Linked DNA regions of Homo sapiens: region 1 is linked to region 2. Evidence: fine-mapped expression QTL. A gene starts in region 2. The other region holds a variant in brackets. All regions are shown on one strand. Distances are from middle to middle.

What was found. PIP is the estimated chance that this variant, and not a neighbour inherited with it, causes the effect.
Region 1: its variant is the best candidate, but not a certain one, in a credible set for the expression of EGFL6 in lung (TOPMed, PIP 0.89).

Annotation. Positions count from the first base shown.
Region 1 is chrX:13,594,417-13,599,798 of GRCh38, forward strand. It overlaps EGFL6 (EGF like domain multiple 6), which reads left to right. Exons shown (of 12, transcript NM_015507.4): 3 at 420-512. It also overlaps the pseudogene RN7SKP20. Among named protein-coding and RNA genes, the nearest start is that of MIR6086, 6.8 kb to the left of the region's middle. The variant A/G (reference allele first, on the strand shown) is at 2,583.
Region 2 is chrX:13,566,839-13,572,221 of GRCh38, forward strand. EGFL6 (EGF like domain multiple 6) reads left to right here and starts at 2,763. Exons shown (of 12, transcript NM_015507.4): 1 at 2,763-3,097. The coding sequence starts at 3,024.

The sequences.
Region 1 (5,382 bases), 28 kb after region 2:
CTCCAATCTGTTGGTTGTTCAGTCTGACTGATAATGTGCAGCATTAAAAGATTTTGATCATTTAAAAGAGAAATGGAGAAAATATGGAGGAGATGAAACGAGGCAAGAGACAGAAGGAAGGGGAATGACGTTGGCATTTGCCCAGGGTTACTCTGGAGTCTCTTCCAGTTCCAACATTATACTTATTTTATTAAATCTTTTGTGTTTGCATGCAAAACTGGCTGACTGTGGTCTGGAAGGCTTTATATTTCATTGAATACCACTGGAAGTGTGGTATTGCCTCCCTTCAAAGGGAGGCAGATTGTCCTCTGTATGTCCCCATGGAGTTCTCTGCCACACAGAACGCAGCGAAGTTTTGCGTGCATTTCACTACACTAACTACTGTTCTTTTATCATCAAGACATCTTTTCCTTCCACAGCTACATGCGAACCTGGATGTAAGTTTGGTGAGTGCGTGGGACCAAACAAATGCAGATGCTTTCCAGGATACACCGGGAAAACCTGCAGTCAAGGTCAGTAAGGTAGCCCAGGGTCATAGTTCAAATTCAATCATTGCAGCAGGGCTGGCGACTCAATATGGTACGCAGGATTTCTTAGGGTTTTTTTAAAGTCAAATCTTCAAATGAAGGTGCTTTCAGGACAAGTTTTTCAATCTCTTCTCCTTGAAAAATGTAAAAAGTCTGATGTTTTTGTCAAGATGCCCAATAAAAGGCCTTTTTTCTTTTCTTTTCTTTTTTTATCTTTTTTAAATAAGCTAAAGGTCTTTTATATTTTTTACTTTTTTATTTCATCTCTTTCCGTAACACAGAAAAAAAGAGCCTTTTTAAAAAGTAAATAATTTTATTGCTTTTTAAACTACCTATGTATTATAAGTATATTTTTATTTTTAAAAATCCAGCAGTGCAAAAAAATATAAACTTAAAAGTGAGAGTGATCACCACTAGTTTTTACTATAAGCATAGTTAAGTTTGTCTTAGATCCTGGAAGTCTTTTTCTGTGATAGTATAAATGTAAGTTTTTCTCATAGGCATCTTTGCATGTCAGCACACACAGAACTACTTTACATTTTTTAAGGCTGTATCCTAGTCCCTAGTGTGAATACTTTTATCCTTTGTGCAAAAATGTGCTTTATTTAACCATTATCATTTATGTTGTCTCCAATTTTTTGCCATTACAAACAGTGCTAAATCTAACATTGTTCTCTGCATAGCCCTGCTTTCTTGAATGAATATTTTTGTAGGAAAAATATTTAAAAGTGGAATTGTTGGGTTGAACAACGTGCATATTTTTATTATACTTCATATACTTTTTTTTTTTTTTTGAGACAGAGTCTCGCTCTGTCACCCAGGGTAGAGTGCAGTGGCGTGATCATGGCTCACTGCAGCCTCAGCCACCTGGGCTCTAGCAATCCTCCCATCTCAGCCTTCTGAGTAGCAGGGACCACAGGCACACACCACCATGCCTGGCTACTTTTTACAGTTTTTGTATAGACGAGGTCCCACTACGTTGCCCAGGCTGGTCTTGAACTCCTGGGCTCAAGCCATCCTCCCGCCTTGCCCTCCCAAAGTGCTGGAATTAAAGGCTTAGCCACCACACCTGGCCTTGATATATCATAACAGATAATTTATAACTTTCATCCTAGATTGTTTGTCTGAAAACATTAAAGAGATGATAATATCTATAACAGTGGTTCTCAACCTGGGTAATTTTGTCTCCCAGGAAGCGTTGCCAGATAAAATACAGATACCAAGTTAGATTTAAATTTCAGATAAACAACAAATAATTTTATAGTATATGTTTGTTCAAAATAGTATATAGGGGATGTGAGGGTGATCTGGCTGTGACATCTGTCACCCCATTGCTCACCTGGGTTGATTTGGCTGATCTGGCTGGCTAGGCAGATGTCCCCTTCCTCCCTCACTGCTCCATGTGTGTCCCTCCTGAAGCTGCGCGCTCGTGTGGAGAGGACGACCATCCCCGATAGAGGAGGACTTACCTTCAGTCAAGGGTATATTAGCTGTGCTCCCCTGCTAGCACCTCCAAACAAGCTCTCAAAATAGTATATGAGAAGTGTGTATACTTTAAAAGTATTAGTCATTTATCTGACATTCAAATTTATCTGAGAATCCTTTACTGTTTTGTTTAGAGATGGGGGTCTCACTATGTTGCCTAGGCTGGAGTGCAGTGACTATACTGCATCCATGATCTCCTGGCCTCAAAGCAATCCTCTCGCCTCAGACTCCTGACTACAGGCACACACCACCACACCCAGCTGGAATCTTGTATTTTTATTTGCCAAATCTGGGAGCCTTATCCCGGGCAACATCTGGCAGTGTCTGAGGACATTTGGAGGGGGTGCTACTGGTGTCTAATGGGTAGAGATCAGGGATGCTGCAAAGCACCTTACACAATGCACAGGATAGCAGCACCCACAACAAAGAATGATCAGACCCAAATGTCAGTAGTGCCAAGGCTGAAAAACCCTGCTGTAAACGTGGTGAATAAAAGTGCCTCATTGGAGCAAGGGATATGGTCTTTGCTATAGATCAGCAGATTTCAACTTGGCTGATTTTGTCATCCAC[A/G]GGATACTTGACAATGACTGGGGACAATTTTGGTTGTCATAACTGGATGTGGGAGGTACTCCCGGCATCTAGTGAATGGAGCCCAGGGATGCCGCTAAACATCCTGCAGTGCACAGGACAGTCCCCACAACAAATAATGATTTGTGTCAACGGAAGTTAAGAAACCCTGGCATGAAGAAATCTTCAATAATTCAGAAAGGGTCCCCAGTCCTATAAGGAAGTTGAACAAAGAGCAGTAAATCCAATTCAGCTGCCCTTGGAGAATGGAGTTTCAGAGAAGACTGGACACCCACTCCACTCTACCACTCCCAGCCCTTGCTGCCAAGCCCAGAGGTTAGCCCCATAAACTGAAATAGCCGCTCTTTGAGCTGCCAGCCCTACAGTCTCGGAGAGCAATCTGGCTCTCTGCGTCCTGCCACCAGCATAGAGGCCAGAGCCCTGGAGATGTTTCTTAGAATTGCATGCAATTGCTTGAGAGAGGTGCTTCAAGAATCGTGCATTCAGGGTGGGCACAGTGGCTCACACCTGTAATTCCGGCACTTAGGGAGGTCGAGGTGGGTGGATCACTTGAGGTCAAGAGTTTGAGACCAGCCTGGCCAACATGGCAAAACCCCATCTCTACTAAAAATACAAAAATTAGCCAGGCGTGGTGGCGAATGCCTGTAATCCTAGCTACTCGGGAGGCTGAGGCAGGAGAATCACATGAACCTGGGAGGTGGAGGTTGCAGTGAGCTGAGATCGCGCCACTGCACTGCAGCCTGGGCAACAGAGCGAGACTCCATCTCAGAAAAAAAAATCATGCTTTCATAAGTAATAATTCAGCTATACCCTTCACCAGAGGTTTTACAGCAGAAAACTTGGTTTTCCATATGTTTTGGATTCTGAACCAAGATACTGTCTCAAGAGATTTGGAATAGAGACAATATTTTCCACGCTAGTTTTAAAGTCTCAGCAAAATATTAACGTTGAGGGAGTGGTCCAGTTGGATCAAGTTTTGAGGCAGTCTGTTTTCTTCCCACAGCCTCCCTGCCCTGTGGCAGCCTGATCAAAGTCCACGTACATCCATTAATGGTGACAGGCCTCAGCCCTCAACTCATGTCTTTCCCAAAACACTCTTCCAAGAAATGAGTGAGTCACCTCAGAGTTAGGGCCAAGCTATGGGATATTCCTGGGTTTCCCGTTATGTCCAATCAGCATTTTTCAATTTCCCCATTTGAAGAGGTTAGGTTCTATGAGGGAGATGGTAGGGTAAAGGGGATAGGCAGTGGAGAAGAGGGTTTCAAATGTCCAGCTAGGGCACTGGAAAATCCCCATATAAGGATATTTTCAGAGATGAAAGCAGCTCCTTATTTTCAAGAATCTGTTACCATGCTGACCTTTTGCCTTCCATGGAATTTGTTTGTTTTTTTCCTCTCTGTATGTTCCCTGGTAGAGTTAAGATATGAAACCCTCACATGACCACATTTCCAAAGGCGACATCCTCTACAGATAATCCTTTTTAAAGTTCTATTTTCCTTCTGTGTCATTTTTTATTTTAATAAAAATGTTACTTATTCTTAAGTTGTTGTTGTTGTTGTTGTTGTTGTTGTTGTTTTAGAAAACAAAAAAGCACAGAGAAGAAAGTCACCCTCGATCTTACCACCTGAAGATAACCATTAGTCGCATTTAGAGCATACCCTCCTAGGCTTTTCTTTTCCTATGTATTTTTTAAACCAATTTTGGAATGATCTGTACACAGAGTTTTGTAACCTTCTTTTATCACGTAACATCCTGTGAACGTCATATGTATATATTTCATATATATATAATTCACATATATATAATTCATATATATATTTCATATATATAATTCACATATATAATTCATATATATTTCATATATATAATTCACATATATATAATTCATATATATATTTCATATATATAATTCACATATATATAATTCATATATATATATATATTTTTTTAAATCATCCAGCCCAAATGTCATCCTGTGAACATCTTTACTTAGGATTAAATATTGTCCTCCAACTTCACCACTAAGAGCTGTCTGACAGGGCTCCCTCTAGAGGAATGTGAGCCAAGGCAATTTGGCCAGTGCAGGGGCCAGCCAAAATAATAATCGACAGGAGGCTGTGCTGTCAGCTTATGTCAGCGGCTGCTTGGGATAGCATGAAAGGCAGAAATATATAAATTATCTATTTCTAAATTATTGTTCAAGTAGTATACACATAGAATTGTGCATATATAAAAAATGTATGGCTCGATGAATTTTTCTAAATGCCCATGTCACTAGTATCTAGATCAAAAGCCAGAAACTTGGCCCTTCAGAAGACTCCCTCACACACCTTCCAGTCACTTCCACTGCCAGTGAGAGAACCATATGTTGACCTCTTATATCACAGATTAGCTGTGCTTATTTTTTAACTGTATATAAATGGACTCATACAGTATATACACGTTTATATCCAGCTTCCACTCAATATCATGTTTGTGAGATTCATCCATTGTTGCCTATAGTTGTCGTTTGTTCAGTTTCATTGCTATATAGTATTCCATTGTGTGAATATACAAGTCATTTATCTATTCTTCTGTTGGGAGGTGTTTGGATTACTTCTAGTTTGGGGCTATCTAGTATCATGCTATTATGAGCATTTTAGTATGTAGGGGAAATCCCAGGACTGGAATTTCCAGGTCATGAGTATGTCTAAATATAGCTCTAGTAGATTCTGCCAAGCAGTTTTCCAAAGTGTTGTACCAATTTACATTCCTTCCAGTGGTGTATAATTATTCCATTTGC
Region 2 (5,383 bases):
ATTGGAAGAAAATGTAGCCCTGTAAAAGGCACGGACGATTTTATGAGATTCTGATCAAAGATTGTTTTTTCTCTGTAGAATGATGAAGTAGGGTCCCCTAAAGATCAGTTTCCAGGTTCCTCTTCAAAGTCAGCAACACCAGTGCAGTTACTAAAAACAACTGCCTCCATGTGGCAATTTGTATCCAACATCTTCTCACCTGGCAACACATCATTTGCAGGTTCCTTCTCTGTTGCTCATATTATGTGACAGCTCTTTTGTTCACAGCTCCCCCAGGAAATAATAGGTGGGTTGGCTGGGGAGTGTTTGACCTCCCCCAAAGTTTCCTGTTGTAATGTCCATTACCTCCTTTAAGCCTACAAAAGAGAATTCAGCTGACAAAGAAAAAGCACAAAGCATCAAAATACTGAAACTAAAGCTAGAAAGTTACAGATAATGTCAATGCAAGATGTTATTCTGACTTTGTAACTCAGGACTAAGAAGGCAGATAGCCCTCACATTTTAGACTAATCATGTTTAGTTAGGACTTTTTTGAGTAATGGTTTATTTGGAGGAGGGAGTGATTAGTATCCAAATGTTAAGGGAGAAGTGGCATGGGCAAAAATCCATAATTTTTAATTCGATTCAAGTTCCAGATATTAGGTAGCTGCCAATGTCATGCCACTACCCGTATCCCCTCAGGCCTTACATTTCAGTAGGACCTTCAACAGTCAGTATCACTAGCCATTTGCCTGAGGGCTTTCTTTGGCTGTAAGCCCCACTCTGTCTTCAGCACAGAAGACTGAGTTCTAGGATCAGTACCACAGTTGAAGCTTTCAGGTAATGAGTGAATGGAAGTGGTGTATAAATACCCAGTTCCCTTGCCTTTTAGGTAAAATCATTTGGAGATGCTTGTTCTATGCTGGCTCTGGGAGATCCCCAGCAGCATGAACCTCCAGTTGCTCACAATGATAACTTAATATATGCCTGATATTGTCTTCTTTCCCAACTCATTTCCTCACTCACCTACCCATGTTCTCTGTACCTCCAGAATAAACTACTTTTACTTGAATCCTTGCCTCAGGGCCTGCTTGTGGGGAAACCCACAACAAGACAAATTTTATATTCCATTTTCTTTAAGATCCTCACAGGTATAGAGTTCATAACTTATATTATTTTCTTTTAGTTTTAATATTTCAGTAAATAAAATAAGTTATGGTATGAAGAGTTCAAAGTGTTTTGATGACAACCTTGAAGAGCTCATCTTATTACCTTATTCATGATACTCATCTGACATGTGAATCTGCCAATACGTGAGAAGATGAGAAAAGAGATTGATATAACAGCAGCAGAGCCCAATGGGGAAAAGCCCTGGTTTCCAGTTCTGGTTCTATACTTGTTAGCTGTATGACCTTGGTCGGGCAAGCTGCTTAACCTCTCCGACTCAGTTTCTTGACACTTCAAACATGGGGGAACTAATGGTCTCCATCCACAGGCTTGTGGATGTTCAATCAGATAACATATGTGTTTAGGACAAGGTCTGACACTATTAATTACGAGCAGCTCAATGGTCTAACTAGTTACCCAAGAATACTGAATCCATGGGGATACCTTCAACTGTAAAATAGAAGTCCCAACTAAACATGGCTTGCACCAATAAGAACATCTATTACAATGTAAAGCAAGATTCTGCAGCAAGAATCTCCCCCCTCCCTACTTCTCACATTTCATTGGCCAGAATTAAGGCATATGCCTATAAAACCATGAATCAAGCTTCCAATCAAGATAAACCTCCTCTTTCTCTGTATCCTTTTTCATTTCATTTCTCACACTGGGCCACTGTGTGTCAGAGGACTATCACAATAAGCCTCAGTAGATTGGCTGGTGCCGGGCAACCTTAGCTGAGCTCATTCATATACGTGTGGATTGGGTAATATACATGAGGCTCCACCGAGTAGCTCTGCTTCAAGCTATAGATCTGCAGGTTGACGAGGTAGCTTTTTCACCTGTTTCTCATTCGCCTTGGACCACCAGGCTAGGTGGTGCAAGGTCTTCTCATGTCCATGATAGAGGGTCAGGTGTGTTAAGACCTAGGCTTGGAACTGGAACACTGCAACTTTTCTGCCCTTAAACCATTGATCAAACAAGTCACACGGCCAAGTCCAAAGCCAAGGTGTGGGGTCATAGTGTCTGCCTACCATGAAGCCAAAGGGTGTGGACGTAGGAAGGACAGAAAGGGATCAGTCATTCATTCTAATGTAACACGTTGTCAGAACAAAGAATGTGTCAGTACCCAAATGGATCTGAATTCATATAGCATTCATGTTTCTGCCATGAATTTCTGCACTGGTTACTATATTGGGATGTCATCTGGGGTCCCATGTAAGTAAGCTGTTGCAAATGGGCCTGAGAGATTACTTGCCAAATGACAGGGTTGCCCAGGACTTAGTGACCTTCCAGCTCTAGCATCCCATTATTTGCAGTTTGTAGAAGAAAACCGGGAGAACGTGAAAACCCAAAGAGAAGTGAGGGATCATGTCTTAGGAACCTGCATCCTTCCATCCTGCTTCGACTTCTCAACTAAATTCTTAAGTCCTGGAGTGCAGGTATCACCGAAATTTGCCCCATGCCTGAAATACATGGTAGTAGATGGTGACTCTGACAAGCGTGAAGTGACCTGAATCTGGGGGAAGTTTCTGGGTGAACAGAGAGCGCGGAGGATGCGCGGGTCATGCTGGAGGCGGGTCCCAGCCAGATGTGCACAGCCCGCCCCGCCCTCCCTCGCTCACCCCGTCCAGCTTCATCCGCAGAGGAGCCTCGGCCAGGCTTGCCAGGGCGCCCCCAGCCCCTCCCCAGGCCGCGAGCGCCCCTGCCGCGGTGCCTGGCCTCCCCTCCCAGACTGCAGGGACAGCACCCGGTAACTGCGAGTGGAGCGGAGGACCCGAGCGGCTGAGGAGAGAGGAGGCGGCGGCTTAGCTGCTACGGGGTCCGGCCGGCGCCCTCCCGAGGGGGGCTCAGGAGGAGGAAGGAGGACCCGTGCGAGAATGCCTCTGCCCTGGAGCCTTGCGCTCCCGCTGCTGCTCTCCTGGGTGGCAGGTGGTTTCGGGAACGCGGCCAGGTGAGTGTCTGACTGGCGATTGGCTTCCCCCCACCCCCGGCCTGAGGTCCCGCTTTGGGGCCCCATGTCTTTGCAGGCACCCCCGCGTGTATGGGTGTGAGTGTGCACGTGTGCCTGTGCGCGCTGCGACGGGATTTAACCTGGATACCAGGCCGGGAGCGCCCACGGGCTTTCCTCCCTGCTCTCCTGTGGCGGGGCTTTGCACCTAGTTAGCTCCTTTTGCATCAGCTGTGCCCCACCTGGCTGCGTCCGGAGGGTTGCAGGAGGAGGGAGGCTCTGCACGCAGACCCGTGGGTGCGTGCGGGCTTGATGGTCTGCAGACCTGCTGTAGGGGCAGGTGTGTGAGGGTTGGTATGCGTGTCGGTGGGTGGGTTCTGTGTCTGTGCGGTTTTGTGTTTTCCACTCTATTCACAGGACACCAAGTGCTTGTCAGTCGCTAGTTTTGCTGGGGAAGGAGGGAAAGAAACCGAGGACGATAAAGCATTTACTGTTCTTGAGCTGAGCCAGCCGGGCTGCTCTCCTCACTGCTCTCTGATTAGGGTTGATGAACTGGAAAGAAAGGACACGGTTGTCAGATGACAACCATTCTCATTCTTGCTATGGCAATGCAGACTCTGAAGCCGTTCCCTACTGCCCTTAAGCTTAGCTGAGACCTGAAATATTTTTTCCAGAGATCGGCAAAGACGCTTAGTAAATGCACGCTTACATGGTGACTGTCGACCTGGCACTGTTCTAAGCACTTCAGGACTATTAACCTACCCAAAGCCATAATGGCTCTGTGTGTAAGGTACTATTATCATCATCTCCGTGTTGTAGAAGAGAAAAACGAGGCACAGAGAGGTAAAGTAATTTGCCTGAGGAAGCATAGCCAGTAAGAGATGGAGCCAGGGTGCAAACCTAGGTATTCTGGCCCAAAGTCTGTTCTTCACCAGGGCACTAGGGCAGCCTTCCGGCAACGGAAGAGGTTTTCTGGTTCTCTAACTGTGATGTCTTGCTTTCTACTTAGGTGTCCACTAGAATATGGTTTTTCCACCGCAGCATTATTGACCTTTCGGGCTGGGCTGGATAATTATTTGTTGGGGTGATGGGCTGCCCTGTGCATTGTAGGATGTTTAGCAGCACCTGTGGCCTCTACTCACTAGATACTAGTAGCAACCTTGACCCCACCCCACCCCCCACCACCACCACCACCACCAAGTTGTGGCAACAAAAAAAAGGTTTGGGATATTGCCCAAGGTCCCTGGAGGGCACAATTGCTCCTAGCGGAGACTGCTGAACTATAGAAATTTTTCAGTGATGATTCCTGAGGAGAGTAGGATAAGAGCTTTGGTTTGGTACAGGCTTCTCGAAGGTTTGCCTATCTTTGTTTGACTTACAGGAAAAAATATTTCATCAGAGTTAGCCATGGTATTAAAGGATTTCGAAGTTAAAACAGAACAAACCTCAAACCAGGTTCTTAGAATGTATGATCGCAAGTTTCAATTTCCTTTTCATGATAAAAATGTAAGCAGATGCAATTTGCTCATAATCACATTTTCCTTGAATGCTAGAGGTTCTTGCGTTGCTAGAAAGCCCACTTAAAAAAGACCAAATGCTGTTTGGAGATGAGATTAATAGTTCTTTAGCGGCCAGCAAACTGACCTCCAGGAGCTTCACTTTCAAAGTGCCACCAAATTAAATTAAAAGCCAAAAGCCCCTGGATAAACCAAAGCATATTAAACTGGAGAATCCATGTCAGGATTCTGCAATTCTGCAGTTTTCAAGATGTGAACCATGGTTTCTTTAGACGATTATCAAGTTTATGAGCTGGTGTGTTTATTATTTGCTCAATGTGCTTGGAAATGTCAAGTGGTCAGCTCTTCAGGAATGTCCAGGACCCATGTTTAATCAGCTCTAGATTCCACATTATGGATAAGACACTGTTACAGAGAAGGCAAGGCACCCATTGCAGAAAACTGTGTCTACTGGTTATTTCCTGGGGTTTCACAACTTATAGGAAAAACTGTGGCTGCTGTATAGAGATTTCCAGTATAAGCATCAGTTCTTTTTAATTGAAACACTGCACTATGATTTTATAACCTAGAAAATTATGTGCTTCTTAAATGGTATTTAGTGCATAGTACACAATTAACGCTCATCAAATGAATAAATCATTAGCTCCATGCATGTACCTGCCCTTAAGCTTCAGAATTTGGCTTGCCTTATATTTTTTATGTCCTTTGGGTATTGGAACTATTTAGATACCCTAGACCTGTCCAATACAGCAAAGATGGTAACCAGGAGCCC